Linked DNA regions of Homo sapiens. The protein of the gene in region 1 purifies or fractionates together with the protein of each later gene. This does not show direct contact. Each region holds a gene or a part of one and is shown in the gene's direction. Other genes may lie near its edges.

What was found.
Region 2: the proteins of UBE3C (region 1) and USP13 fractionate together in Homo sapiens (co-fractionation; one large-scale study listed by BioGRID). This does not show direct contact.
Region 3: the proteins of UBE3C (region 1) and VSIG1 purify together in Homo sapiens (co-immunoprecipitation; one large-scale study listed by IntAct). This does not show direct contact.
Region 4: the proteins of UBE3C (region 1) and ASB4 purify together in Homo sapiens (co-immunoprecipitation; one large-scale study listed by IntAct). This does not show direct contact.
Region 5: the proteins of UBE3C (region 1) and RRM1 purify together in Homo sapiens (affinity purification with mass spectrometry, with the first as the bait; one large-scale study listed by BioGRID). This does not show direct contact.
Region 6: the proteins of UBE3C (region 1) and ANXA7 purify together in Homo sapiens (affinity purification with western blotting; one study listed by BioGRID). This does not show direct contact.
Region 7: the proteins of UBE3C (region 1) and PACC1 purify together in Homo sapiens (co-immunoprecipitation; one large-scale study listed by IntAct). This does not show direct contact.

What each region holds. Positions count from the first base shown.
Region 1 is NC_000007.14:157,207,784-157,212,183, forward strand, and holds part of UBE3C (ubiquitin-protein ligase E3C), read left to right. Parts: coding exon 1-152; intron 153-4,400. UniProt on the Homo sapiens protein: E3 ubiquitin-protein ligase that specifically catalyzes 'Lys-29'- and 'Lys-48'-linked polyubiquitin chains.
Region 2 is NC_000003.12:179,785,540-179,789,939, forward strand, and holds the end of USP13 (ubiquitin carboxyl-terminal hydrolase 13), read left to right. Parts: 3' UTR 1-3,862; downstream 3,863-4,400. UniProt on the Homo sapiens protein: Deubiquitinase that mediates deubiquitination of target proteins such as BECN1, MITF, SKP2 and USP10 and is involved in various processes such as autophagy, endoplasmic reticulum-associated degradation (ERAD), cell cycle progression or DNA damage response.
Region 3 is NC_000023.11:108,076,065-108,080,584, forward strand, and holds the end of VSIG1 (V-set and immunoglobulin domain-containing protein 1 isoform 2 precursor), read left to right. Parts: intron 1-12; coding exon 13-154; intron 155-983; coding exon 984-1,317; 3' UTR 1,318-3,120; downstream 3,121-4,520.
Region 4 is NC_000007.14:95,537,292-95,540,982, forward strand, and holds the end of ASB4 (ankyrin repeat and SOCS box protein 4), read left to right. Parts: intron 1-279; coding exon 280-468; 3' UTR 469-2,942; downstream 2,943-3,691.
Region 5 is NC_000011.10:4,097,522-4,101,921, forward strand, and holds part of RRM1 (ribonucleoside-diphosphate reductase large subunit), read left to right. Parts: intron 1-4,400. UniProt on the Homo sapiens protein: Provides the precursors necessary for DNA synthesis. Catalyzes the biosynthesis of deoxyribonucleotides from the corresponding ribonucleotides.
Region 6 is NC_000010.11:73,379,329-73,383,728, reverse strand, and holds part of ANXA7 (annexin A7), read left to right. Parts: intron 1-38; coding exon 39-152; intron 153-383; coding exon 384-554; intron 555-3,527; coding exon 3,528-3,698; intron 3,699-3,774; coding exon 3,775-3,850; intron 3,851-4,400. UniProt on the Homo sapiens protein: Calcium/phospholipid-binding protein which promotes membrane fusion and is involved in exocytosis.
Region 7 is NC_000001.11:212,379,730-212,384,129, reverse strand, and holds part of PACC1 (proton-activated chloride channel), read left to right. Parts: intron 1-4,092; coding exon 4,093-4,235; intron 4,236-4,400. UniProt on the Homo sapiens protein: Chloride channel gated by pH that facilitates the entry of chloride ions into cells upon exposure to extracellular acidic pH. Involved in acidosis-induced cell death by mediating chloride influx and subsequent cell swelling.

The sequences.
Region 1 (4,400 bases):
GCCTGGGGATCATCAAGTTGGCTTATCCAGAAACCAAGCCAGAAGTTCGAGAAGAATATATTACAGCATTTCAGAGTATTGGAGTTACTACTAGCTCTGAAATGCAACAATGCATACAGATGGAACAGAAAAGATGGATTCAGTTATTTAAGGTATAGAGTATATGTATTTTTTTGTTTACTGACATTGAAAAATGTACAAACTTTTGTCTTGACTCGTTGCAGAGGAATAAAAATGCAGGTTTGTTTCAGACATGTTTTAATTTGCAAGACTTTTTTTTTTTTTTTTTTTTTTTTTTTTTTTTTTTTTGATACATGGACTTGATGTGTCTCCCAGGCTGGAGTGCAATGACACCATCATACTCCACTGCAGCCTTGAACTCCTGGGATCAAGCAATCCTCTCACCTCAGCCTCCTGAGTAGCTGGGGCTACTGGCACATGCCACCACACCCAGCTAATTTATTAGTTTTTTTGTAGAGACAGAGTCTCACTGTGTTACCCAGGCTGGTCTCAAATTCCTGGCCTCATGGATTCCTCCTGCTTCTGCCTCCCATAGTGCTGGGATTATAGGCGTGAGCCACTGCAGCTGGCCTATATACCTTTTTAATTAAGAAAAGTAATTTTAGTACTTTTGATTAATTAAGGTAATTTAATTAACTAAAATTACTTTCATTTTAATTTACATTTGCCTCACTTAAAACCATGTTTTTAAACCTTGTTACATGCATCTTTTCTATGTGGCCCTAACTACTTAACTGTGACACGATGAAATATAAATACAGTTTTTAAAATGTTTTTATTTTTCACTAAATATTTCTTAGATTTTATTGTTTTTTCAAACCTTTCAAAAATTGATTAACAACGTAAAGTAGGTCATTAATTTTTAATGCTAGTTGTATATAAATTATTTTAACATATCTTCGTTCTTAACCAGAAAGTGAAGTTTTGAGTTACTGTGGCTGGAATGTTGGCAGGAAACCACCACCAGTGAGAATGTAACTGTTGGGATGGAAAAAAAGAAAAGGAAAAGGGTGCTTGACTTCCCATGAAATTTCTGCAGCAAACACATCTAGTCAGCTAAAATTGCTCATTAAAGGAGTGAGAGCAGAAGAAATGCATTTTCCAAATTGAATGCTAGATTTACAGTCCGTTTAATACCAGCGACCTCTCGCACACTAATGTTCAGTTCGAGTCATCAGCTGTCCCTTTGGGTCTTTTATCACTGCTTTTGTCAAGCTATCTATTTAATTGAAAGAAGTTAATTGAATGAAAATGATCAACTAAGCTTGTATTAATATTGCTAATGGAACTTTCTTCTTGGCCATGTTTGGAGAAAGATGTCAAGCTAGACTTTAGGAAGGGCCCATTAATGCTTGCACTTAACCTGATGGGCTAATTAAGGAATGCTTATTCATCCTCCAAGTCCACGAGAGTCTCTCTCCAGCCCGTTCTGCCTGGTTTTACAACACATTTCTCTTAGGAGCATGAGCATTAGCAGCAGCAGCCGTAACTGATAATGTTTTGATTGCACTGAATACAGTCCTAATGCATCGTTGAATTTATAATTTGGGCAGATTGATGTAATATATGTTTGCACAATTTATTTTAATTACCTATTTCTGTATTCCTAAGTAAACTGGGACGGTCACATGGTAAGCCTTTACTATATCCTTTCTTAAAGATTGACAAATTTGCAATTTTTCTATGTTAAAAAATAAGCAGTCTCACCTATTTAAAACTTATAATTCTTACATAAGCTTTTCCTGGATGTGGGTGTTAACGGTAGCATATTTGTTTTCCTTTCAATATTTGATTAAACCCTGGGGTCTTTGTTAATAAAGCTTTCCATGATGTGCAATATCAGGTGTTGTGTATGATATCAGATAATTTCACTGTTTTATGGCATCTGTTGAGAGTTTCATAATTTCCATGACAGGCTTATCTTTAGTATGTAGAAATCTCTGAACTTAATAATGCCATATAAGATATTTTCCACCCTGGCCTTATTTTGTTTTGGTTAAGCGTTAAATGAAAAGTTTGTACAGAATTTTTTTATGCCTCAAAATGACTCCCTGCCACTTTATTCATCATTGAAAGTTTTAAGAGTTAGGGCAAGGCCGGGTGTGGTGGCTCACGCCTATAATCCCAGCACTTTGGGAGGCCAAGGCGGGTGGATCACGAGGTCAGGAGTTTGAGACCAGCCTGGCCAAGATGGTGAAACCCCATCTCTACTAAAGATACAAAAAATTAGCTGGGCGTGATGTACGCCTGTAATCCCAGCTACTAGGGAGGCTGGGGCAGGAGAATTGCTAGAACCCGGGAGGCAGAGGTTGCAGTCAGCCGAGATAGCGCCACTGCACTCCAGCCTGGGCGGTAGGGTGACTCTCTCTCCAAAAAAAAAGAGGGTGAAAATTTACCTTTTTTTTGTTGGTGGTGGTGATTGTTTTAGGTTTGAAATCAAGTTGTTGTAAGACCTTTTGAGTTTAGAATTGTTTAAAGACCTTTTTTTTTTTAAAGGATTTCTGTTCTTTGGTCACCTGTCCCCCAAACCATTTTATGCTACCTGCTATTGAGCTGAGCCCCCAAAATAAAAATCACTGCATAATTTTTGAGTAATCAGCTGCTGTTAGCTGTTCTTTTAAGAAAATACTATCTCTATTATGAAGTTGTATGAACTTACACCTCTGTAGTTAACTGTGTTTTAGGCAGTATTCTAAGAGTTTTGCATATATTCATTTAATACAATAGTTCTGTGAGAAAGATACTATAATTTGTTTTACAGATGAGGTCATGTATATGATGGTAGAACCAGCTGCTATTCTACACTCCCCTTCTGAAAAGAATACAAATTGTATCAGCATTTTTCATATTATTGTTGTGCCAAATTTGAGTTGAAGAATTCGAGGTAGAATCAACCAAAGAACGCAGAAGCGTTTAGCCCATGATCTCCTGCCTTCCATTGATTTTGACAGAATTGCAAACGATGAGACCTGACTCCTTCAACACCGACCATTTTCATTTTTCAGTCCTATCATGGTCCTCCCAAAGTCATTTGTGTGAGAGGCTCTGCTGGCTGGTCACAGAGCATAGAATTTTAAGTGGATAGAGTCATCTTTCTTTGTCACTGTAAGAATTGAGGTCACTTTCTAAGCCCTGTCTTGACACTGCTAAAACAGTTTATGCATTTATCAAATTTATAAACTCCTCTTGAAGTGTAATTTAGAGCTATAATTACTTTAGCTTGATGAGATAGGAAATCCTGTTTTGAGATGTCTGTGTGCATCCACCAAACTTAACAGGAGTTTCCTCCTGTGATAGGGAAACAGGAGGAAGTGGCAGGGAATGAGGAGGAAGGTTCCCATGCCCTCATTATCCATATGTCTGGAGAGAGAGAGAGAGAGAGAGAGAGAGCCATACTATGAGTGATTTTTTTACTTCCTTAGTGGTTAAGTTGTATTTTTTCAGTTCCAAAAAGCTATTTTTAAAAAGTAATAAAGCAACAGCAGTGCCCTGTTAATATAATCCTAACATGCGACCATTTGACTATGTTACAACCAAGAGATCCAAAGCTTGTAGCGCTGTGCCTTATCCTTTTCTGTTATTGAAGATTTTGATTGATTTTGTTTTTGTTTTTTGACTACTAAAGTGGATGCTATATGCAGTAATTTTATAGTGTTTTAAATATGTGCTGAAGAATACTGTTTTTCAAAATACTCCAGTTTTTAACCCGTTTGTGCCAGAGGTTGCGAATTTTTTGTGTGAAAAATCAGGCCTTGGCAATGACCTTGAGCAGTAGAATATAAATCCCACAAGCTTAGCGTTCCAGTAATGGAACACTAGGCATAAATGGGTTAACAAGTGGTAACTAAGGGCTATATAAAATTTGGTTAACCCTTGACAGCAGCAGTGCATACCAGATACTTCATGACTTTCATAGGTTAGAGTGTTTTATTCTCAGTTATTTGAACACTCACAGTATTCATCCCACCCATAGTGACACAGCTCTATGCTAAGGGATCATAAATGAATTCACACAGGGTGCCTGTTCCTGCAGTATCACCACGTAGTGAAGGAGACATGCATTCAGCTAATGACAGTGGGAAACAGCAAACCACAGAGGCCGGTCCTGTGGAAGCACACAGGAGAGAAGCACCAGCTGCTGCGTCATCTGGCACTTGACTCACTTGAGGAAAACGGTTGTTTTCCAACGAGGTCATGTTCTTAGAGCTTTTTCTGACATGTTACTTTTATATATTCTTCTTATGAAGTCAAATTGTAAAAATCCATTCTCATTTGATGTATTTCCCACATTGCACATTTATTGCACTTCAGAACCTGGAAATTGTATGCTAAGTATGCTTTGTATTTTGCTTTTTAAAGAACTAACTCATCTGGTTTCA
Region 2 (4,400 bases), on another chromosome or scaffold:
TATTTGGTCAAACGAAAAAGAATTTATTGCTGTCTGTTTAACATGTATTTGTTTGGTTGAAAGGATCTTTTTAGAAACTGTAGGAAAATAAACAGAACCAACCAGGTGAAACAAAGCACAGACATTGGGTTAGGATGTAGTGAGTTGTGAACAATCAGGATTCTGGGTGTGATGGGGGTCCCTGTCTCATAGGTGATCCTTTGGTGCCATGTGACCGAGAGACATGGTGTCTAAGGCCCATGGCCTGGAGACCTGGGTGCTGCTCCTAGCTGACTGTGGACCTTGGGCAAGTCCTTCATCCGTCCTGTGCCTCACTGTCCTCATCTGAACAATGGTATGATGACACCTGCCCTCTCTTTCAATCATGCTTTGAGGATACAGTGAGATTGGTTACAGTGAACCTTCAATGAGTAGAATGTGGTATGCCATGGTGGGTTGTAGTAGATGGTGCTCCCTGCCTTTTCTCCTCTGTTTTCCTCAATTTGGGAACAAATGAGATTGGCAGAAGGAGGGAGCTCACGGTGCAGTACTTTTCTACCAAAGTGTGCCCACTGGTGTCACCTCCTAATGTTAACTTGGATTTCCTAAAGCAGTCCCACTCTGTTATGAGAGTCACTGACTCCCGTGGACATCCCCACAGTAAGCAGCCTTACAAAATCCAGTCCCCTTAGGGCAGAGTGAGTGTCATAGAATAATGACTCCAAACCCACGTCAAAAATGGCTTGTTTTCAGCGATGTTATAAAACAAAGGCCTGTTTTTTGGAATTGGGGGTGACTGGGTGGTTTGGATTGAAATGTGGACAAAGATAGCATGTGTATTTTGAATAAAATAAAAATTTTGTAATAAAACTTTTAAAAATCAGTGATGTAAAATCAATATTTAAGACTATAGGCTATAAATTGTTTGATTTCATTAACTAGCCCTTTTGATGCCTAGACATGTTGTAAAAAAATTGTGCTATGGCTGCCTTTTCTTCTGCCCCACAACACAAAGGGCTATTTCTACAAGGCAAAGTTTTGTATATGTGCTATTCTTTACTTCAGATTGAGAGTTGGGAAAAACTGGAGTAAATAATGGGTTTCTTACTTGCTTAAAAGCATATTTATATGTGTATCTCAATATATACAAGGCAGGTTCCCCTATAAAAGTCTGGAATGTACTGCTTAATTTTACACTTGTGTAGACACGATTATTTGTGACTGAAAAGTGGAATAACGTGTGGATTTTGTCAACTCATTATCAGTCTGTTAGCAGTCCTCTATGTGAGGCATGGTGGTCTAATTGTGAAATTCTCCCTGTATATGGGTGTCTGTGTGAAAGACAGCACTTTCTTCCTGTAAATATCTTTTGATATCCATTTATGTAGAATTCCAATGAATATGTCTTTGGAAAAGGTAATGTATCAAAGTTTTTATTTTGCCAATTGATCTAAATGCCCATATAACTAATCAGAAATCCAGTTTGGTTCAGATTGGGATTTTCTTTTAAAGAAAAAAAAAGTATGCAGAAAAGACTATTGGAAGAATCATGTGTTAGTGACACTTTACATCAACGTTGCTTCAATATTTTGGAATTGACCAGGCTGCTTTCTCCTACCTGCAAGAGAATGTGCCTGACATTTCCCAGTGCTTACTTTGGGCTATAGGAAGTCCAGCGGGGATAGCTCGAGCCTCTTGCTCCCTGAGTCATTTATTCCCTTTACCTGAACAGAGCCTTACCTGCAATTCATAGTGAGAGCACCTGGGTCTGTATCCTGACTCCACTCTAAGTGAGGTGGGACTGAATCACTGTACCTCTCTGGGCCTTTTCATTTGAAACAAGTGGGTTAGACTAGATTAGCTCCAAAGTCCTCTCTTGCCCTAACATTTTATTTTTATTTTCCTGTGGTTACCACTAGGGTCTGACACGTAAAATGTGAGGGATCACTTAGAGGTTTGGATGTTATATTTTTGCATTGTTACAGCTTATACTCCCCAGTTGAGGACCTGTGTCATTCTTAGTGGCCCCACGACCCCTCTGTTTGTATTCCTGCTCCACTTATCTATACTTTTTTGGGTAATCATCCCACTTTTTTTTTTTCTTGAGATGGAGTCTCGCTGTGTTGCCAAGGCTGGAGTACAGTGGTGCAATCTCAGCTCACTGCAGCCTCCTCCCGGGTTCAAGTGATTCTCCTGCCTCAGCTTCCCAAGTAGCTGGGATTACTGGCGCACGCCACTACGCCCAGCTAATTTTTGTATTTTTAGTAGAGACAGGGTTTTGCCATGTTGGCCAGGCTGGTCTTGAACTCTTGACCTCAACCTGCCTCAGCCTCCCAAAGTGCTGGGATTACACGCATGAGCTACCGCGTCCAGCCCCACTTTTTTTCTACTCTTGAAAAAAACAACTTTCTAGTCCATGAGGTACTTTGGCTCCATCCCCCTCAAAAACAAAACAAAAAATCCATTTAAAGTGTCCTCCTAGAAAAGCCTCAGAACTGCCTTCAACTACATCTGTCACCTTTATAGAATATTTTGAAATTCTGGAAGAGGATGGGAAACAAAATTCTAATTTAGCTAGAGCTGTGATCCCCAAATAAGTGCTGACAAAATTGTCTACCACAGAAAGGCCGTCCTTGTCATCTTGTAGGCATCACTGCTGCTAAATCACATCAGTACATGCCTTCTGTGGGGAGATGGCAGGGGGCAGGGGCAGGACCAGGGGATGGGATTAGATAAAGTGTGATAATGTCCTTTAGATAAAAGAAATCCTACGCTATAGAACAAGGTTCTGTACTCTTGAGTTGGTGTCTGAGATCACCTGCACAGTGTTACAGAGATTTTCCACTCCATAAATCACTCTAAAAGAGTTTGCATAAGACTCGGTAGACCTGTGCTATTCAATGTGGCAGTCAACAGCCATATGTGGCGATGACTACTCAAAGTTTGGCTTGTTCAAATCGAGACTGTGTTGTACACATACAATACACACCAGATTTTGAAGGCTTGGTACCAAAAAGGAATTTAAAATATTTCACCAATATTTCATATTGATAACATGCTGAAATGACACTATTTTGGATGTACTAAGTAAAATATTAACAATTTAATATATTTATATAATTGAAATTAAAATTCTTTTCACCCATTTTTATTTTTTTAAAAATGTGGCCCCTAAAGAACTTCAAATTAGACATGTGGATAACGTTATACTTCTATTGGACAGCCCCACTCTAGACTTACATGGTGTGGGGTAGGCAGTGAAATCCGTAAATAGGAAACGCAATTCTGCAAAGTATCTAAATAGACAGAAACAACACAAATATTTTTGCTGGAGTCAGGAGCACTGTGAGGCACAGAACATCTCCCAGAAAGCAGATTTTTTTTTTCTGCCGAAAAACCAATATATATATGTATGATCCCAATTAAAAGACAAAAGCAAATGAGCCCCAAACTGCCTGTCTTCAGCTTTGCCTGGGAGCTGCTACCTTTGCTCTTCTAGCATCTTCTAGGTACCAAGGATATTAGCCACTTGAGGGTGTTGGGCATATTTGTTTCATTGTAGGCAAAATCCTCTTGTGGTTTCCCCTCCCCAGGTATTGTTGAGTCTGTTCAAAGCTGGGTGTGTTGAAACACTGCACAAATCCTGCCACTCTTGATGTGCCGCTTGTCTCAGCCTTGGCAGAGGCTGAGTCTGTTCCTGTGCCCACCTGTCCAGCAGGTTTTGATGTTGGCTCCTGAAAGAGTTTGTATTTATTTTATTTTGCACTAGTCACAGTTGTTGTTAAACTGTATCAAATGTTTTGGGAGATTATTTGCCTGAGATGGAAAGAGAGATGGATGATTTATTGCTTCAATTGTTTTAAATTAAAAGCTATTCTCACAATCTGAGGCCCTTTATGGCTCTTTTTTTCTTTAATTTTGAAAAATGCCAAGTAAACGGATTCTGCCATTGATTGTTTTCATCTGTCAGTGGAACAGGTAACTTGAGACAATGACTAATCTTATTTCTTTTTAGGGGTTCTTGGCGTTACCAGGCAGCCATCACAGTGGACCATCAGTGGTGGCACATTGTTACCTCTGTGGAGGAGGGAGGATTTGGGGCAGGGCGGAGTCTCCTGCCTTGGACTTTATCTGCTGGATGTCATGTCACAGATCTTTCTCTTGTTCCCTAGATCTTGGTTTGCTGACAGCCCCCTTAACACATATAAAAGCAGAGTGGGCACACGCTATGTCCAGAGACTTAGGCATTTCGATGACACTGTGTCTCTAAGGCGTATGAGTTCTCTCTTGCTGCTGTGACAAATTATCATGAACTCGGTGGCTTAAAATAATACATGTATTACTATGCAAATGGTCTTACAGGGCTAAAATCAAGGTGTTGGTAGGGAAGCTGTAAGGGAGAATCAATTCCTGCTTTTTCT
Region 3 (4,520 bases), on another chromosome or scaffold:
TGTATCCTTCAGATCCAGAAGTTGGAATCATTGTTGGGGCCTTGATTGGTAGCCTGGTAGGTGCCGCCATCATCATCTCTGTTGTGTGCTTCGCAAGGAATAAGGCAAAAGCAAAGGCAAAAGAAAGAAATTCTAAGACCATCGCGGAACTTGAGTAAGCCTTCATTTTGTTGTCTTTACTTGAATACAAACATTTCTCAGGCATGTCTTTTTCAGTCATCAATTCCTAAGCACTCCTTTTAGTATAAGATATCAGAGGTATCTTTCTGTTTACTCTCATTGAATTTAAAAAAGAATGATGATGGCTGCTATTTATTGAGTGCTGTGTGCCAGGCTCTGTTCTAAGCACTTTATGTACATCAACTCATTTAGCTATCACAACAGTTTTAGGTCCAAGAAAACATTTTCATATATAATACTAACATACTTGTCTTAATACCAACATAGTCATGAAATATAATTTTAAATTTTTTTATGGAACAAGAGACCCACAAGGACAGTGCCCAGGGAACACAGAAGTTAGAATGTGGCCCAGCCCACAGCTCATGCTCTTAATCACTCTATTTCTTTCCTAGTGTGTATCTCACTCATTCATTTTTTTTCATCTCCTTGCTTCTACAACTATCTATTGGGTATCAACCAGGTGCCAAGTATTGTACTAGATGGAGTGAGAAATAGCGATACATCAGAGCTATGAATTTGGACCTTAAAGACCTTATTAGATTCTTAGACTCTTTCATTCTGACATTATTTTCCCACCTTGAAACACTGCTCTTTCTTAAACTTTCATGATATTGTTGAGACCTAACCTTTCTGAATCCAAAATGACCTATGGCCTGACAATGAGTCAGAATATCAGAAATAACAGATTTCCTGAAGTCTGGGACCTATGGTCATTGAAGCTACAGAACATATGGTTTCACATGAAATTTCAAAGTTAGCATCTCCCTAACTTGTTCTTTTCTGGGCCTTCTTTCTTGCAGGCCAATGACAAAGATAAACCCAAGGGGAGAAAGCGAAGCAATGCCAAGAGAAGACGCTACCCAACTAGAAGTAACTCTACCATCTTCCATTCATGAGACTGGCCCTGATACCATCCAAGAACCAGACTATGAGCCAAAGCCTACTCAGGAGCCTGCCCCAGAGCCTGCCCCAGGATCAGAGCCTATGGCAGTGCCTGACCTTGACATCGAGCTGGAGCTGGAGCCAGAAACGCAGTCGGAATTGGAGCCAGAGCCAGAGCCAGAGCCAGAGTCAGAGCCTGGGGTTGTAGTTGAGCCCTTAAGTGAAGATGAAAAGGGAGTGGTTAAGGCATAGGCTGGTGGCCTAAGTACAGCATTAATCATTAAGGAACCCATTACTGCCATTTGGAATTCAAATAACCTAACCAACCTCCACCTCCTCCTTCCATTTTGACCAACCTTCTTCTAACAAGGTGCTCATTCCTACTATGAATCCAGAATAAACACGCCAAGATAACAGCTAAATCAGCAAGGGTTCCTGTATTACCAATATAGAATACTAACAATTTTACTAACACGTAAGCATAACAAATGACAGGGCAAGTGATTTCTAACTTAGTTGAGTTTTGCAACAGTACCTGTGTTGTTATTTCAGAAAATATTATTTCTCTCTTTTTAACTACTCTTTTTTTTTATTTTAGACAGAGTCTTGCTCCGTCGCGCAGGCTGTGATCGTAGTGGTGCGATCTCGGCTCACTGCAACCTCCGCTCCCTGGGTTCAAGCGATTCTCCTGCCTGAGCCTCCTGAGTAGCTGGGACTACAGGCACGTGCCACCACGCCCGGCTAATTTTTTGTATTTTTAGTAGAGATGGGGTTTCACGTTGTTAGCCAGGATGGTCTCCATCTCCTGACCTCATGATCCGCCCACCTTGGCCTCCCAAAATGCTGGGATTACAGGCATGAGCCACTGCGCCCGGCCTCTTTTTAGCTACTCTTATGTTCCACATGCACATATGACAAGGTGGCATTAATTAGATTCAATATTATTTCTAGGAATAGTTCCTCATTCATTTTTATATTGACCACTAAGAAAATAATTCATCAGCATTATCTCATAGATTGGAAAATTTTCTCCAAATACAATAGAGGAGAATATGTAAAGGGTATACATTAATTGGTACGTAGCATTTAAAATCAGGTCTTATAATTAATGCTTCATTCCTCATATTAGATTTCCCAAGAAATCACCCTGGTATCCAATATCTGAGCATGGCAAATTTAAAAAATAACACAATTTCTTGCCTGTAACCCTAGCACTTTGGGAGGCCGAGGCAGGTGGATCACCTGAGGTCAGGAGTTCGAGACCAGCCTGGCCAACATGGCGAAACCCCTTCTCTACTAAAAATACAAAAATTAGCTGGGCGTGGTAGTGCATGCCTGTAATCCCAGCTACTTGGGAGGCTGAGGCAGGAGAATCGCTTGAACCCAGGAGGTGGAGGTTGCAGTGAGCCGAGATTGTGCCACTGCACTCCAACCTGGGTGACAGAGTGAGATTCCATCTGAAAAACAAAAACAAAAACAGAAAACAAACAAACAAAAAACAAAAAATCCCCACAACTTTGTCAAATAATGTACAGGCAAACACTTTCAAATATAATTTCCTTCAGTGAATACAAAATGTTGATATCATAGGTGATGTACAATTTAGTTTTGAATGAGTTATTATGTTATCACTGTGTCTGATGTTATCTACTTTGAAAGGCAGTCCAGAAAAGTGTTCTAAGTGAACTCTTAAGATCTATTTTAGATAATTTCAACTAATTAAATAACCTGTTTTACTGCCTGTACATTCCACATTAATAAAGCGATACCAATCTTATATGAATGCTAATATTACTAAAATGCACTGATATCACTTCTTCTTCCCCTGTTGAAAAGCTTTCTCATGATCATATTTCACCCACATCTCACCTTGAAGAAACTTACAGGTAGACTTACCTTTTCACTTGTGGAATTAATCATATTTAAATCTTACTTTAAGGCTCAATAAATAATACTCATAATGTCTCATTTTAGTGACTCCTAAGGCTAGTCCTTTTATAAACAACTTTTTCTGACATAGCATTTATGTATAATAAACCAGACATTTAAAGTGTACAATTTGATGAGTTTTGACAGAGCACATACCCATGAAACCACCACACCCATCTAGAGAGAAAACATTTCCATCAGCCCAAAATGTTTCTTCATGCCCCTTTGTGCGATCCCACCATTGCCCTGGACCTAGGAAATCACTCATTGTTTTCCATCACTAGAGGTTAACTTTGCCTTTTCTTGGCCCTCATACATATGGGATGATACAGTATGTACTTTTTGTGTCTCACTTCCTTCTAAGGTGAATCCTTTTTAAACAAAGTAGTGAGTTTCTCATTTATCACTTTCAGATTTTCATGTAAAATATTTTCTTAAACTGCAAACTCCTTTCTATATAAATCATAACCATACACAGATTGAGGTAGAGTCTCTGTAGGTTTTAAGGAGAGTTAAAATGGAAATTAACATTACACTTATCTAGAGCCATGGAGAGAAGAGATAGCAAGCGTTTATTTCTGCATTTTCTTCGATGCGTCCATTTTCAGAAAATGTCAGGGATTTCTGATGCATTTATAATTTCATTCATACTAAATATGATAGTATGGTATATGGTGTCTGATGGACACAAGAAGCAAAATAATGAAGGTCTTAAGAATGACCTAATATTTAGAGATTAAAAAGTAAACAACAGTGTAAACATCTCAATTACCAGAATGCCCAAGTAGCTGGAATTCATTTTTCCTTTCCATTTTTATTATAGAGGCAAATCGCAAGAGACTGACATGTAATAGTCAACAATTACACCCCAAAATTTTTGATGGATCAGTGCAGTCCAGGAAAGAAAGCACTACTGGTAGTCTTATAGAGCTCTGTCCTTATTAGCACTGTTCTGTTCAAAATACTGATGAATAGTTGGATCAGTGGCTTGTAACCTTTTTCTGAGGTCATGGAACACCTTGAGAATCTGCTGAAAACTCTAAACTCATCTTCACTGAAAGATGCTTATACACATAAAGTGTCACATATAGTTTCAGGTGAGTTACAGACTCCCTGAATCCAAGATGAAGAAACAGTTACTTAGATCAAAACACACAAAGTACACTTAATAAATTTGTGGATGACTTGCTCCTAGGGGGAATGGCCACTAGGCTATAAGAAAGAATCACGATTCAGAATGATCTTGATAGCTCAAAAGTGGAGTTGAAACCAACAAAATGAATTTGACAGGAATAAATAGAAAAATCTGGATTTAAAAATATGAAGTACATGTTGCCCAGGCAGAAACCCTACATGGGCAAGGTTAGGAAGCACATGAGATTAATCTGAATTCGTACCTTTGGATCTCTCCTTTCAGTGCCATTTCTGGCCTTGTGGCATCTTATTTTCCAAACACCCAGGATTCTCATGCTCCCATTAGCTCAGTGACCCTCTCAGTTCTTCTTCCCTCGGGCAAGACTCATTGC
Region 4 (3,691 bases), about 62 Mb from region 1:
AAATTGCTATTTTGGTTTAGATTCATCCAGGCACTTCACACTTGCATATTTTATCTTATCTCCTGGGTTCTGAATTGTAGAATGTTATTTCCCCTCCCCTTTCCTTGTATACCACCGCCTCACTGCTCCCATTTCAATATTGCGTTTAATTTTTGCCTCACCAATAGAGACCCTAGGAAGCTGCCATTACGTATAGAGGTTAGTTGCAGCATTGCTGATTTTTATTGATGTAAACTGTGGGGCCTTGCTAACTTTAATTTGTCTTGCCTTCCTTTTCAGAAATACTGGGATTTTTACCACTCTCTCTTTACTGTGTGCTGTAACTCTCCAAGGACTCTCATGCACTTATCGAGATGTGCCATTAGAAGAACATTACACAACAGATGCCATAGAGCAATTCCTTTGCTTTCCCTCCCATTGTCATTGAAAAAGTACTTGCTTTTAGAGCCAGAGGGAATTATTTATTAAGCCTTATGAGACAGCAGTTCCCAATCCTAGGTATTTAAGTGGACTTGCTGGGTAGACACAGTTTGCCTAAATAAAATGGTACTTGGGTTGATTATAACACTTCAGGGATTTCAAAACACTTTACAAACACTGCCATTAATCCTAGAATATCATGGTATGGGGAAATAAAGAAGAAGTAAAGTTAAGGAATTTTCAAAGACAAGGATGTATTCAGAATGTACTGATAGAACAGTAATAACTAATATGTATAGTGTTCTTACTAAGTACCTGAAATATTTTTGTAAAACTTCTTATATCTTATCTCATCTGAAATGGGACCCAGGTTTTCTTCCAACCAATATAATTCTGTGCCTTATCAGTAATATGTTTACATTCTCATTCAAATGGCCATATAGCAGGCTTTGCAATTGGCCTCTTAAACTTGGTGTTTTCCCCCATTACCCCTTAGCAGTAATTACTGTCACTAGTTTTGCAAACTCCTACTCCCCAAACCAAGCTACTCAAGTTTATTTCAGTGATGAAGGCATATGAGCATAGTCAAAACAAGGAGATCTTGGAGTCAAATTAGAAATGAGAAAGAAACATCAGTCCAGTTAATAGTCAAGAATGGACATTTGAACCAGACATCACTGAGCCAGAGACTGGAGATGCAAAGATGAGTCCCATGTGACTCCTGCCTTCCAGGATCTCACCATTTAGCAGAGGATCCAGACATACACACAGCTAACTGCAATATAAAGTGATGGGGCAAGAGTACAGGTGCAGACTCACTTTTAATGCTTATCTTTCAAAGTTGTGTTTCTGACATGAAGTGTGATTTTTCTTTTAAGCATGAAGTTAAAGAGTGAAGGGGTTATGTAAAGTAGAGGGATCTCCTGCTCTTGTTAGGGTATTTTTAAGGTTTTTTCTAGATAGTGTGTCTTTTTGGTATGGTTTCTTGGTTAGTATTAATACTTTCCCAGACTCCTTGAGAAAAATATTGCACACTCAATGGCTCCAGTGCATGTGACAAGGAAGCATAGGAAAATGGGGGAAAGAAAGTGTGTGAGGGGACCTAGTTGATTACTTCGGTCTTTTTATGTAGCAGACTGACATTTCATAGCATTGTAGCTAAGAGATAAGGAGCACTTTGCTAGTGACAGTGGGCTACGAAAAGTAAATAGAGAGACTTTTTGAAAATGGTAAAAGTTTGAGAAACTTGGGAAGATTAGTGTGTTAATCAGGCTTGCTAGTTAGTGGATTGCAGAAAGAAAAATGTAGGTGATTAAGCTCTGGGCCTTGTGGTTTATGAGGTCAATTTTGCTTCACTTTTTTTTTTGTTCTTGCTATAATCACTTTTAGATAAGCTCATTGCTCTTAGCATCATTTTTTAGAGGTTAAAGCAGAAGTAAATTGCAAACAAATCTGTCAGTTGTGAGCAGATTTCTTTTATGTGTGTGGTTCTCCATCATATTTAACTTTGGATGCTGGAGTGTTGAATAGAGATGATGTCAGATATTCCAATAGGCTATCATTTAATGTTAACTGGCAATCACCTAACTGGTTAATCTCAGTTGAGACTGTGCTTCTGAACTGGGATTGTCTTACTCCCAGGGCTGTGTAAGAAAAGTCATAGGTGGATACAATAATCTCTTTTAAGTATCAGTTTTACTCAGATATTTTGGTGGAGATATTTTGTACTAAAACAAGATCTATATCATGGAATAGAATGCTGAATTTGTATGAATTATTCACATAAAGCTTGATCTTTCAAAAAATAGTTTGCTTGCAGCAAGTGGTATTAGAACACATCCTAAAACAGAATGAAATGATGTCTTTTGCAGCAACTTGGATGGAGCTGGAGGCCATTATTCTAAGTGAAGTAACTCAGGAATGGAAAGTGAAATACCATATGTTCTCACTTATAAGTGGGAGCTAAGCAATGAGGATGCAAAGACATCCAGAGTGATATAATGGACTATGGGGACTTGCAAGGGGAAGCTTGAGAGTGGGGTGAGGGATAAAAGACTACATATTGGGTACAGTGTACACTGCTCCAGTGATGGGTGCACTAAAATCTCAAAATTCACCACTAAAGAATGTATCCATGTAACCAAAAACCACCTGTACCCCCAAAACTATTGAAATCTTAAAATAGTAATAATTAACAAAGTAAAACAAGATCACACCCTGGAACAATTGGAGGATTGCTTGCTGCCCTGCATCTTAAGGCGTATTCTAGCAGCAAAGCTTGTGATGCACTGACTTGGGGCAAGTAAAACTGATGCTGAGGACAAAGGGAGAAGATGTTCCTCGCCCAGGGAAATGAAAACTTTTCTTATTCACCTTGCTTGTGCTTAAACACTTATGTTCATCTAGTGTAGAATACATGGCTACTTGTTTGTAATTTTTTTATTGGTGGAATTAAAGTAATTTTTCCTTATCTTTGAACTTTTATTTAGAGAACTTAAATAAAGCTCTTCTGTCTCCTTTCATCTTTGTGTTTACTTACCAATAAGACTCTTTTTCCTAACCCCGCTTTGACTTTTCAGCAATGACACTGAAGAACTCTACACATTTCATTGCTTTTATCAACAGTTAAAAAGAAAAAGAGAATCAGGGATTGTGCCTGTAAATAAATAATGTTTTCAAAAGAAAGTAAAGGGTAACTGTGGCCAAAACACAAATACAATGCAGCCTCTTGCTGTAAGAACAAGTGTGTTTTAATAGTAGTAAAGAAATTGTACTGAATCATTCTCCTCTGCCTCTCACCATCTCTGTCCTCCTGGGGTTTTTCATTTTCCTTCATTCTCACTGTCCACTAAACCCTGGGCAAAGCAACAGAGGAAATTACATCCTCATGACGCCTTTGTTACTTTCTTAGAAAACTTTCTGTAAATAGGATCTACTGTCTTGAAGAAAAAAACAATCTCTCTTCTGAAACTTACATGAGAGGAAGAATCTTAGATATGAGGGAAAGATCACCTATCTTGTTTTCTCTCCTTCTTAGGAACTAGACACACTTGTGTTCTATTTTTTAATCATCGAGTGTTATGTCTCTACTTTGTCCTTCCATTCTAAACCCAGTGGGTTCTGATAAAAACACAGTAGTCGAACGATGATTGTAGGGATAAGAAAAGTAACAAACCATTTGCAGTGGGTTATCAATGTTGGAAAAGACAGCTGAGTCTTACGTTTTTATTACTCATCTGATTGTTTGTGAAGAACTTACAAAGTTCTAAGT
Region 5 (4,400 bases), on another chromosome or scaffold:
GGTTTTCTGGACTTTTTTTGTACCCCCTTATTTTTGGCATGTCAGTGGAATAGCAGACTAACTCCTACAGTTTTTGTTAATTTTCTTTGAGATGGGGTCTTGCTCTGTCATCCAGGCTGGAGTGCAGTGGTGTGATCTCAGCTCACTGCAGTGTCTGCCTCCTGGGTTCAAGAGATTCTCCTGCCTCAGCCTCCTCAGTAGCTGGGACTACAGATGTGTGCCACCACGCCTGGCTAGTTTTTGTTATTTTTAATAACAAGGGCAACTGGAAGTTGACTTTGAAGTACCTACTGAATATGCTAATGTCTTGCTAAACACTGTGAGGGCAGTAATGGAGAAGGCAGCTCTATCTTCAAAGAACTTAAAATTGTTAGGGATTTAGGAACAATCCATATGAAAATTATTAGATAGAAGAGAATAGTAGATGAGTTTTTTTCATCTGCTATCTTGAGCTATTTTTCCTAATGGGAGAGTATCATTCCTCAAGGAGATTATGGTTAAAAAAATAAACATTGAGAACCATTGCAGTAAATGACAAAGTAGCTAACTGAGTTGTAAACTGTTTTGGAATTTAGTGTAGTATTTTCAAAACTTTGGATTGTAACTCACAGTAAAAAACAAAACATTTTACAGACATGTGTATATATGTGGATACACATAAAATGATACAAAAGTTTACGAAATAATGTCTTTGAAAGCATCCATTTGCACTCTAATCTTTCTTTTATTCCAGATTCTTTCCCTATCCCTGCCTCCCTCCCTCCCTTCCTTCCTCCCTTTCTTCCTCCCTCCCTTCCTTCCCTCCCTCCTTGCTTCCTTCCTTCCTTTCTCCCTCCCTTCTTTCCTGCCCTCCTCCCTCCCTCCCCTCCCTCTCCCCCTCCCTCCGTCCCTTCCTCCTTCCTTCCTTCCTTCCTTCCTATTCCATTCACAGCCTGCTAATATTATTTTACAACTCTGTGGATACCGTGCTGTTCACCGGGATTGCAGTGATGAGTAGGCAGACATGGTTCCAGCTTCCAAAGATCCTACAATCAATTGAGAAAGATAGACAAATAAAGAAGTAATATGATAAAATATGATAAATACTCTGATAGGTAAAGTATAGGCAGTAGAGGCCATTCATTCAGTTATTCATAAAGCATTTATTCAGCACCTCTTTGTGCTAGGAACCGTTGTAGGCATTAGAGATTCTGCAGTGAACAAAGCTAAATTACATTTCTCATTGAGTTGACTTCTTGGTGTGGGTGGGAGTGGTAAGTGTATATAAGAAATAAGAAGTAAACATAATAATCAGTTAATTTCAGATACTGATTAATGAGATGATAGTAAAACAGGATCATGTGATAAAGATGAATGAGAAAATAACCTTGGATTGGGTAGCCAGGAAAGGCTTCTCTGAGAAGCCAACATTTGAGCTGAACCCTAAATAGTATTAAGAGCTAGTAATGTGAGATCTGTGGCCTGAACATTCTCGGCAGAGGGAATTAGAAAGTTTGTATCCTGTGGAAAAGGCACGCATCCTTGGTCTTACAGGATTAGGGAAGTCTTCCTGAAGAGAGAAGAATGAAAGACAGTTTATAGCCAAGAGGAAATCACACTAGTATGCTAGAGGATTTTTTAATTTTATTTTTTATTTTTTGAGACGGAGTCTTGCTCTGTTGCCCAGGCTGGAGTGCAGTGGTGTGATCTTGGCTTACTGCAACCTCTGCTTCCCAGGTTCAGGCAATTCTGCCTCAGCCTCCCGAGTAGCTGGGATTACAGCATACCCAGCTAATTTTTTTTTTTTTTTTTTTGTATTTTTAGTAGAGATGGGGTTTCACCATATTGGCTAGACTGGTCTCGAACTCCTGACCTCAGGTGATCCGCCTGCTTTGGCCTCCCAAAGTGCTAGGAATACAGGCTGAGCCACCATGCCCTGCTGGCTAGAGGATTTTAAAAGAGGAAAAGGTCAGTGTGAGTTAAAAGTGGTTGAGGCAGGTTTTATGGAGGTGTGAGATTTGGAGGGTGAGTAGGAGTTAGATGTATGGAAAGGTGGAAGAGGAACCTTTAGGCAGAGTAAGGTATAAGCAATGATGTGGATATGGGAATGGGAAGCCCTCTTGGGACTTATATTTCACAGGGAACAGTTGAAGAGATCTGGGGCCAAACTAAGAAAGGCTTTGCTTGAGAGAAGAGGATAATGTAGGCAGTGAGAAGCAGGGATTAGTGATGTGATAAAATCAACATCTGGCTTGAAAAACTAACCAAGTGGAATGACAGAATAGAGAACTGTGTGTCATTGGACCTTTAGATCTTTAGTCTGCCTCCTATTTTCAAGTGTGAGTTAAGATAATTACCAATGCACTTTTTTTTTTTTGTCAGTTTCCTGATTGACTTCAGAACTTCTGGCAGTTGTAGAATTTTCTTTTTGCTAAGTTGCTTTCCCCCCCCACTGCATGTATAATTGCAGAACGCTAATGTTGCTTTGCAGTTACCTGCCTGCTTAGTTATCCAATTGCTAGAGCACTGAGGTTTCAGTCCCAGTGCCAGCCAGTTAATTTACCCCATTTCAGAGTTAAATGCTGCAGATGTGAGCCTGATGAGAAAATTATCACAATGGTGATCAGAAAGAGAGGGGCTAACATATCAGTGTAGAAGAAAAAGCAACTTGTTCTAGTGATAATGGGTTAATAGTGATGTCTTATTGTTCATTTATTCTTCATCAAATGTTTGAGAACTTGCCTTGTTCTAGGCACTAAATTTGAGAATACAGATGTGAATCAGAGGGCCAAATAAATGTAAACATATTTAGCATGTTTCTTATTGGTTACTTCAGGTTGAGTATCCCTTATTCAAAATGCTTGGGCCCAGAAGTGTTTCGGATTTTGGATTTGTTTCAGATTTTGGAATATTCGCATTATACTTACTGGTTGGGCATCCCTAATCAGAAAATCCAAAATCTGAAATGGTCCAAGGAACATTTTCTTTGAACATTGTGTTGGCATTGAAAAAGTTTTGGATTTTGGAGTGTTTTGGATTTTGGAATTTTGGATTAAGGATACTCAGCCTATAGTTACAATGGATTGTAGGTGCACAAAAGAGACAAAAACTAAATCAGTGTGAGACACTAACATTTATTGAGTGCCTATTGTGTATCACATACTGTGATTTTTTTTTCCCCCATAGGAGCAGCTTTATTTTATAACGAGGTATAGTTGTAACTATGCCAAAGTTGTTACAACAAAAGCACTTTTTACCTTATCTAATTTTATTGTCACAGTAAACTGATTAGGCAAGTAAAATAGATATAATAATTAACCCCTTTCTACAAATGAAGATCTGTGAAATGACTGATTGTGTTTTGTGGCTTGTCTAAGGTTAAGGCTGTTTGGTGGTTGGATATATTCACTATTCCTGGTAAGAATAAATAAAGGTCGGATGAGCTACTATTTGAGGTTAAACTAAGAGTAGTAAGACTTTTTTGTCTAGAAGGACAAAGATATAATCTAAGTCCAAAATCATGAAAAATATTAGGTAAAATATATAGTATGTCAGATGGGGTAAGTGCAATGGAGAAAAAGCACAGAAGGGGAAGGGGGATAAGAAGAGCAAGGGTCCTATTTGGGGCATTGCAATTTAAAATGGAATCATCAGGGAAAGCCACATTGAGAAGGTGATGACATTGAGCAAAAGACCTAAAGGAGATATATAGCAAGAAGGCCAAGTTGTCAAGGTACAATAGGAAGGAAGGTGGGAGAGTTGGAGGTGAAATTGGGAAGTGGGTGCACAGGACAAGTGGTATAGGATTCTGTGGATTTTTTTTTTTTTTTAGTTGGAGTTTCATTCTTGTTGTCCAGGCTGGAATGCAATGGCGTGATCTCAGCTCACTGCAACCTCCGCCTCCTGGGTTCAAACAATTCTCCTGCCTTAGCCTCCCGAATAGCTGGGATTATAGGCCCCTGCCACCATGCCCAGCTAATTTTTTGTATTTTTAGTAGAGACGGGGTTTCACCATATTGATCAGGCTGATCTCGAACTCCTGACCTCCAGTGATCCACACCCCCCCCCGCTCCCTTGGCCTCCCAAAGTGCTGGGATTACAGGTGTGAGCCACTAGGCCTGGCCTGTGGATTGTTATAACAATTTTGACTTTTATTCTGGAGATCATAAGCCACTATTAGGAGTTTTGAAGGAGGTAATGATATGATTCTGAGTTTAACTTTTAAAGGGTAATTTTGGCTGCCATGTGGGATGGGGGAAAAATTTAGGAAATTATCCGTAAACGTCTGTCTGTATAGAATTCATACTCTTTGAAGGTGACATCAGAGAAGACAATCTCTTCATGAATCTTTTGAGGGGGCCTCAATCTTTTCTGTGAAATAGCACTTCATGTTGGTCAATTTACATGTTAATTACATTTGA
Region 6 (4,400 bases), on another chromosome or scaffold:
AGAACACATATACTTAGCTTGTATTTGTGATTAAATAGGATTTAATCAAAGATCTCAAATCAGAGTTAAGTGGAAATATGGAAGAACTGATCCTGGCCCTCTTCATGCCTCCTACGTATTACGATGCCTGGAGCTTACGGAAAGCAATGCAGGTACTACTATATGTCATTTATTATGAATATTTTGTCCTATTTCATATGTAAAACCGTACAAATTATGACAGTTCTGAATTTACAGTGGTAATTAAAGCAATTCTTTATTTCACATCATCCATCTGAATATATAGTTTTTAGTTCTACAGAACAAAGAAATATTTGACGAAGATTTAATTACTTGCAGAAATTTCATTTTTCTTTGTATAATCTTCCCTTCATTTCATGTAGGGAGCAGGAACTCAGGAACGTGTATTGATTGAGATTTTGTGCACAAGAACAAATCAGGAAATCCGAGAAATTGTCAGATGTTATCAGTCAGAATTTGGACGAGACCTTGAAAAGGACATTAGGTCAGATACATCAGGACATTTTGAACGTTTACTTGTGTCCATGTGCCAGGTGAGTATAGTATGAATGCTTGTGCGTTGATAGAGGGAACATACTTTAAAAGCCTTTTGCCAGTGAGCATTCTTTATTCCTTTTAATATTTAGCCACCTTGCAATATTGCCATCTTTAAGAGGGACAACACAGAAACCAGTGTACAGATTTCTTTGTAGTTACTATTGAGATTTATTCCTGTAAATCTGGCTTTTGTAAGGAATTAGAGATTTAACCTCTAAGGTTGTATGGAATCAGAAACCAATTCGAGGCTCTGTGGCTGGGATGGGGATGAAACTGTACATTTGAGCTTATCACTATCCTGCCCATTATGCCCCACCATCAAGTGAAGATGTGCAGGACTGCCATAGAGGTGCTACAGGAAGTGAGGACTATGTGAGGAGACCCAGAAATGCAGAAAAATGTTTTAGGGTTCCCAGTAATAACTGTGATTAGCACCTTCTTTATTTTGATTCCCCAGGTGTGCTGGAGAATTGACAGAAAATACTCCAAATAGGGTATTTGGAATGGCATTAGAAACACACTTAGGGCCAGACATTGTGCCTCACACCTGTAATTCCAGCACTTTTGGAGGCCAAGGCAGGAGGATTGCTTGAGGCCAGGAGTTTGAAGCCAGCTTGGGTACCATAGCAAGAAACCATCTCTATAAAAAATATTTTTAAAAATTAGCCGAACATGGTGGTATGTGCCTGTAGTGCCAGCTATTCAGGAAGTTCAGTGGGAGGATCACTTGAGCCCAGGAGATTGAGGCTGCAGTGAACTGTGATCGCACCACTGCATTCCAGCCTGGGCAATAGAGTGAGATCCTGTCCTTAAAAAAAAGAAAAGAAAAAAAGAAAAGAAGCACACTTAGATGATGAAGGTGTATTTGAAAGAGATTATGTAAATGACTAGCATGCTGATTCAATATCAAGAGTTATTGCCTATTGTGCTAGTGCACAAGATTGGACCATCTGGAGGGATCTAAAGGAGAGGAGGGGCTCTTAAGAGCCAAGGGAGGGGCTGGGTGTGGTGGTTCATGTCTGTAATCCCAGTACTTTGGGAGGCTGAGGCGGGTGGATCACCTGAGGTCAGGAGTTTGAGACCAGCCTGACCAACATGGTGAAACTCCATCTCTACTAAATACAAAAAATTAGCCAGGAGTGGTGGCACCTGTAATCCCAGCTACCTGGGAGGCTGAGGCAGCAGAATCGCTTGAACCCGGGAGGCAGAGGTTGCAGTGAGCTGAGATTGTGCCATTGCACTCCAGCCTGGGTAACAAGAGCAAAACTCCATCTAAAAAAAAAAAAAGGGAGGTAGCTGTGGAAAGGATAGTGGATATGGAAATGAGAAAGCAAAGTAAATGGGTTGAAGGAAATTGAATTTACCTAAATCAGAGTAACAGGAGGGCAGTAGGTTAGGATTTAAAAGAAACAAGAAGGAAAACAGACAATGCTAAAAAATGGCTATTAAGATTTTACATGAGGTGCTGAGTCTCTCTTTATGCAGAGTTCAAGGCCCAGCCCTACCTTTTCCAGGGCATGAGTAGAGGAGTAACTTCCTGAGAAAGTGTGTGTGAATCCAAAGGCAATAATCTGGGAAATTTTTTGTGAGTACCTTTTCCTGTGTTATATTCAGTCGCCCATGTAGAATGTGCCTCTACGTATTCCTTGTGCCAGTTGCTCAGAAGACAGTTCTTCAGCTTCAAGGAGGATTTTTCCATCTTATTCCAAAGATGGTCCCTGAGACTCTAAAAGGCAGCCTTTTCTTGTTTGGGTTTGTCTTTCTGTTTTTGAGAGAAACCAACTGCTCATTAAGCTTAAACTCTTCCTTCCTCCTTCCTTTCTTCCTATTCCAGGGAAGAGTGTGGTATACAAATAGGCACAGTCTAACAGAACATGAGTTATTTGTAGCTGCTTCTGTAAAGCTTATGTGTCATTTTTATGCGTGTATTTATGGTAAATACTTACATATTAAGATTATAATTCGATGGCTGAGTGTGGTGGTGTGAGCTTATAGTCCCAGCTACTCTGGAGGCTGAGGTAGGAGGATCACTTGAACCCAGGAGTTTGAGGCTATGATCATGTCTGCAAATAGCCATTGCACCCCAGCCTGGGCAACATAGTGAAATCGTGTCTCTTAAAAAAAAATATTATACTCAGATGAAGAAAAGAAAGTTTATGAAGCCTCCATATTATATCCTCCCTCCCTCCTGCCCTAGAGTTAAATTTCTTGAGGGCAGAGACCCTGTCTCTCCTGTGTCCCTACCGCTTAACACAGTGCCTGACACAAAGAAAGTGCTTAATGTCTCTTAGTCGCATGAATGAATAAAAAGTAGAACTCAGTACAGTGCATATTGATCTTAAATTCCAGCTAAGAGAGCTGTTTCTTCATTTGAGTGGTAGTTAATATCTCCTAGTAGAGATATTTTTGTTTAAACATTTTGGGTTTAATTTAGCTCCCAAAAGCCCTCATTTTTAACATAACCTCATTAAACCGTGATCTTATATTATAAAATCCAGTTGACAGTATAATAAATTACTAGTTATATTTCCATGCATAGAAATGAAGCATATGCATGACAGACATTATGGATTAATCTTTAATAAATTATCTCTTTAGGCCAGGCCCAGTGGCTTACATCTATAATCCCAGCACTTTAGGAGGCTAAGGCAGGAGGATCACTTAAGCCCAGGAGTTAGAGACCAGCACCTGGGCAACATAGTGAGACATGCTGTCTCTACAAAAAATAAAAAAATTAACCAGGCATGGTCGTTTGTGCCTGTAGTCCCAGCTATCTGGGAGGCTGAGGTGGAAGGATCACTTGAGCCTAGGAGGTTGATACTGCACTCCAGCCTGAGTGACAGAGCAAGACCCTATCTCAAAAAAAAAAGAAATAGTCTCTTTAAATCCAAAAGTGAACTAGATTGGAAAAAAAAAATTTAGTAGAACTATTATTTATTTCTTCCAATTCCTGCCTTTCTCTTTTGCAGGGAAATCGTGATGAGAACCAGAGTATAAACCACCAAATGGCTCAGGAAGATGCTCAGCGTCTCTATCAAGCTGGTGAGGGGAGACTAGGGACCGATGAATCTTGCTTTAACATGATCCTTGCCACAAGAAGCTTTCCTCAGCTGAGAGCTACCATGGAGGCTTATTCTAGGGTATGAGCTTTTCTTTTGAAGATTTGGCTTCTGCTGTAAGATACAAAAATATTTAACCCTTTAATTTTGTTTGCAGATGGCTAATCGAGACTTGTTAAGCAGTGTGAGCCGTGAGTTTTCCGGATATGTAGAAAGTGGTTTGAAGACCATCTGTAAGATATTTTTGTGCTTTGCTTTATTTTCTTTTTAAATGAGTGGGAGCTTTGAATAGTTGTTCCCATTAAATGTTGATAATATAGTCCACGTGGAATCTGCTTAGGCAGTAGCTGATCTAATCCTTTGGGGTTTGTTTTTTGTTGTTTGTTTTCTTTATTGGATAAGCCCCCAGAAACAGTCCTGTGTTTTTACATACAATTTCCTATGAATGGTAGTTCTGTGATCAAACAGGGCTGTTTGGGGATTATTTGGCCTTCATCTGTAGGCCTGTCTTGATAACTGTGCCAGAATACCTGATAGTTGTAGCACTTCCTTTAAAGAGAAAGGGAAAGTCCTGAGGAACTCACAGTGTCACCACGAAGCAGTTTGAGTCCTCAAAACAGATATTTCAGGTACTCAGCCCAGTGAGACTCATTTCCTTTTTGAAGTTAACCAGTTTCTGGTGGTCTAATACACAGATGTCTAACAAAGTGAAAGTTTCATTCTCATGGATATTAGGACTAAGGGGAGTATTAGTAACACTTTGGTATTAACAATGGAATGTTG
Region 7 (4,400 bases), on another chromosome or scaffold:
GGCCAGATTGGTGGAGCAAACAAATTAGAGCAAATCCCTAACCCAAAACAGATGAAGGAGAGACCTGTTGTAGAGGTACAAGCTTTCCTTCCAAACCCCCAGCTTGGAATCAGCACCGTTAGAGAGCAGGGTAGTCATTACTGGACTGCCTGTTGGCTGGGCCAGACACACCCTATACCCTCCCCAGGTATGCAGAGCCGCTGGGGATGGTTGCCTCTGGGTAAAAGACCCTGGAACCATTCTCTACAGAAGCGAAGGGAAGATGATTCTTTGTGTAGGCATAGGAAACAGAGCAGACTTCTACAATGGAAAAGGAGAGAGAACTAAAGGAAAGGACTCTTCCCAGAGTAAAACACACTGGAAAACTCAGTGTGCTTCCACAGAGCATACTTAGCTTTCCCATGCAAGGGAGAGGCCTATTAGAGAAACAGAAATTTACTACTTTGGAAGAAACCAAAACCCAGACCTATACTAGTCAACCTAATCCTTCATTCATAAATAAGAATGGAGAATTAATGGTCACCAGACATTTGCATGAAACCAATGACAGAAAAGGACCAAGATGAACAAATAGAATGGACTCTAGAATAGGGAAGTAGAAGCTAATTAAAACAAAAAGGAAAGCAACTTTTAAACAATTCCAATGTGGAGTTATATGTATAATAGAAGCTCTTTGTCTGGATTCCCAGCTCCCTTCATCTCTCTGTAAAACACGCTAATGAAAACTCGTGGCTGCTTCCGTCCCACTAGGTGCCTATTCTCTGGATGCCCTCCTCTCCTCCCCCAGTTGAAGTGTATGCTTAGGAGGAGTCAGTGAGGGTCATTTCCAAACCTGTGTAGGCCAGTTGCACTTGTTACAATAGTTACATAATTCGACTAAAGAGTGTAAAAACCCTTGAAATAAGGGCACAAAGAGAGAGTTGTTTTTATGGAAATGAAGTTGAATGCAGCTACTGCCCCCAAGTCTGAGTGTTGGTTCATCTCCTCCATCAATTTCTTGAAGTCCACAAGCTATAAACTAACAGAGAAGTTATCTCCTCCCTATCCACCAAGTTTCCTACCCAAACCAGCATATAGCAGTGGAGGAAGAATATGATGAGAGCAGTAGAGCTCCCATTTGGAAAAGGAAGAAGGGGAAGGGCCCGCAGCTCTGCTCTGCAGCAGTGGTGGAACCCTGCAGGGTGGGACCGGTGAGACGCCTTCTTGGCATGAAGTAAGCTCCTTGGTTTGAACCTGTTGCTGCCCTCAGAAAGAGACTCCTGTGTGCTCTGGCCTCGTCCCCTGGGAGCTTCTGCCTTGGTGGTAATGCTCTGTGGCCATATCTGAAGTGGACATTAGAAAATACGCCCTCCCTGGTGGCTGCACAGCTTGTGCCACTCACTTCCTGCTTGTGTGAGCAGCTTTAGGGCTAAACAATTGCAAACTTGGAGGGCGGCTTCTTACCTGCCTCCTGCCACTGCCTATGTTTGCAGTGAGATTTCAGAAATGTGTAGGCTTCTGGCTGTTCGCATCTAATCAAGTTCATGTGAAAGTGACCCCAGTCGAGGGTCTCATCCTGTTGTATTTGTAAAATCTTCGGAATTTTGCTGATTTTCTGGTGCTTTCTTTCATGCTCTCAATTTAATGGTAGTTATTTTTTACCAAATGCTCTGCTCTGGCACAATAAGGTTTGCCACCTTTCCAGCCTGCGGGATCCTTATCTATTTCCTTACTGCCCGCCATTTTCCCACTGCCCAAATGTTTGGCTGTTCCCTCATTTTGATTTTTTTTGCAACCATAAAACACTCCAGCCGGGCGTGGTGGCTCATGCCTGTAATCCAGCACTTTGGGAGGCCGAGGCAGGTGGATCACGAGGTCAGGAGATCGAGACCATCCTGGCTAACATGGTGAAACCCCGTCTCTACTAAAAATAAAAATAAAAAAATCAGGCGTGTGTAGTGGCACGTGCCTGTAGTCCCAGCTACTTGGGAGGGCAAGACAGGAGAATCGCCTGAACCCGGGAGGCGGAGCTTGCAGTGAGCCGAGATCACGCCAGTGCACTCCAGCTTGGGCAACAGAGCGAGACACCGTCTCAAAAAAAAAAAACAAGAACACTCCAGTGTCAGCTAACAAATTGTGTATTAGTCAGAGTATAGGCTAAGCTACCAAATAAAAACAAAACCTGCAAATACAATGGCTGAGATGAGGGAGAAGCCTCCTTCTCTCTCTGAGAACAGTCCTGGCATGCAGGCCGTGTGGCGTAGTGGGCAGTACTGCCTCATAGGATAGTCCAGCCATGACTTTTGTCTTGTCACTGTGCTGTCCCCTGGGCATTGTTCTGGTCCATGTGGGCAGTGTGTGTGTGTGTGTGTGTGTGTGTCACTGTGCTGTCCCCTGGGCATTGTTCTGGTCCATGTGGGCTGTGTGTGTGTGTGTGTGTGTGTGTGTGTGTGTGCAGTGTGTGTGTGTGTGTCTGTGCACATGCCCAGGCCTGGGAAGGTGGAGGGCAAGCAGTTCCCTTTTCAGGAAATGGGGTGGAGTTGAATGAGTCCCCTTTTCTTTCGCACATTAGGAACTTTATCACGTGGCTACATTTGAGGGCAGAGATGAGGCTCCAGCAGGGGGAGTGGATTCTGCTGAAATCTGGGTTGGGAAAGCCATTCTAGTACTAAAGGAAGAAATGGATAATAGAAACCAGGGACAGTGCTTTCTGTTGCACACTTAAAACAAAATGGTACAGAAAGGTTGAAAAATAAATAGATGGACAAAGCTGTCTTGAGAAGATGCAACGAAAACCAGAAGTGACAATATTAATAGTGTGGAATTCCACGTGCAAAAGTTTGCAAGAAGGATGTTTAATATTGATAAGAGGTTCAACTCCATACTCTCCACTAAGACGACTGAACAGTTCCAAAACTTTATGTACAAAACAGCATGACATTTATATATTTTAAGCAAAACCCGTTAGAAGTAAAAAATACCATCACTTTAGAGCACGATTTAAACACCCCTCTCAGAAATTCACAGATCAAATAGACAAAAACTAGAAAGGATAAGAATTGAATAGTGCAGTTAATAAATTTAGAGTATGTATGTGTGTGTATACATGTGGGGGCACAAAACTTTGTAACTGACAGTGTACTCACTCTTTTTCAAATCTCTGTAGAGCATTTATTTATAAAAGTTGATGTAAAAGACATTTTTTTCTAAAATTAATCTATAAATTCAGTTTCTATCACAGTTAAAAGTCCCAGTGAATTTTTTTGTGGAACTAAGCAAGCTAGTCTTAAAGCATACTTAGAACACGTTCAAAAATAACCAAGACAAGTTTGGGGATGGGGAAGAGTAGTAGGGAGAGCACCTTCCCAGATCTCAGAACAGTGGAAAAACCACAGGAATCAAAGTGGCACAGTACTGGACAGAGACAGACAAATGTGTGGGCTCTGCTAGGGCCAGAAGCAGACATAGATATTGGTTCTGCATGGAATTTAGTATAGGATAAAGGAGGGAGGGGAAGAGGCTTCAAAACCTGTCTCTATGCATTGTTTGGGAAGTAGGAGTTAGAGCCCTATTTCACACTATATACAGAGCTTAAAGCCAGGTATATAAAGTATCTAAATGTAAAAAAGATTAAAAAGTGCTATAAAGAAATAGAGGAGAATATTGATATAATTTTGGCTTTCCTCAGCAAGCAAAACCCAAAGCCGTAAAGAAAAGGATTTAAGGTTTTACTACGTTAAATTTAAAGTTTCCATAGGACAAATGACATTGGAAACAAAGTTAAAAGAAAAATGACAGACTGGAAGAAAAGATTGGCACACATAACAGATGAAAGTGATCATCCTTGCTAAATTAAGAGCTTCCATAACTCAAAGAACCAATGAGAAAAGTGGACAGAGGATGAGCTGCATTCAGCTCTGGTTGGGCATCATATGGGGAAAACTCCCCAGGAATGAGCATGAGTCCCAGCCCAGTCCTGTTGTTGGCTAGTGGTCCCTTTGGAGACCACTGGGCAAGGAGCTATGGGCTTTCCAGTCAGTACTTCTGCCCTCAGACCCAGAGGCCTCTGTGTACTCTCCCAGGACTGAGACTCTGTCCTTTTTCTCTCTGCAGAAATCTGCCCTGATTGTCCAGGGGCCCCGGGAAGTGAAAAAGCGGGAGCTGGTCTTCCTCCAGTTCCGCCTGAACAAGAGTAGTGAGGACTTCAGCGCCATTGATTACCTCCTCTTCTCTTCTTTCCAGGAGTTCCTGCAAAGGTGGGCTTTTAGAGTTCACAGTGGGCTTACTGTCTACTTTTTATCTTATTCCAGCTGTGTATGTCCCAAGGCTAGAGACGGAGGGGTGAGGGCAGGGAAGGGAAGGGGCATTCTCAGATGACCCACTGGCCCAGGAAGGGACCTCATGAGCTTGGCCGGTCCACT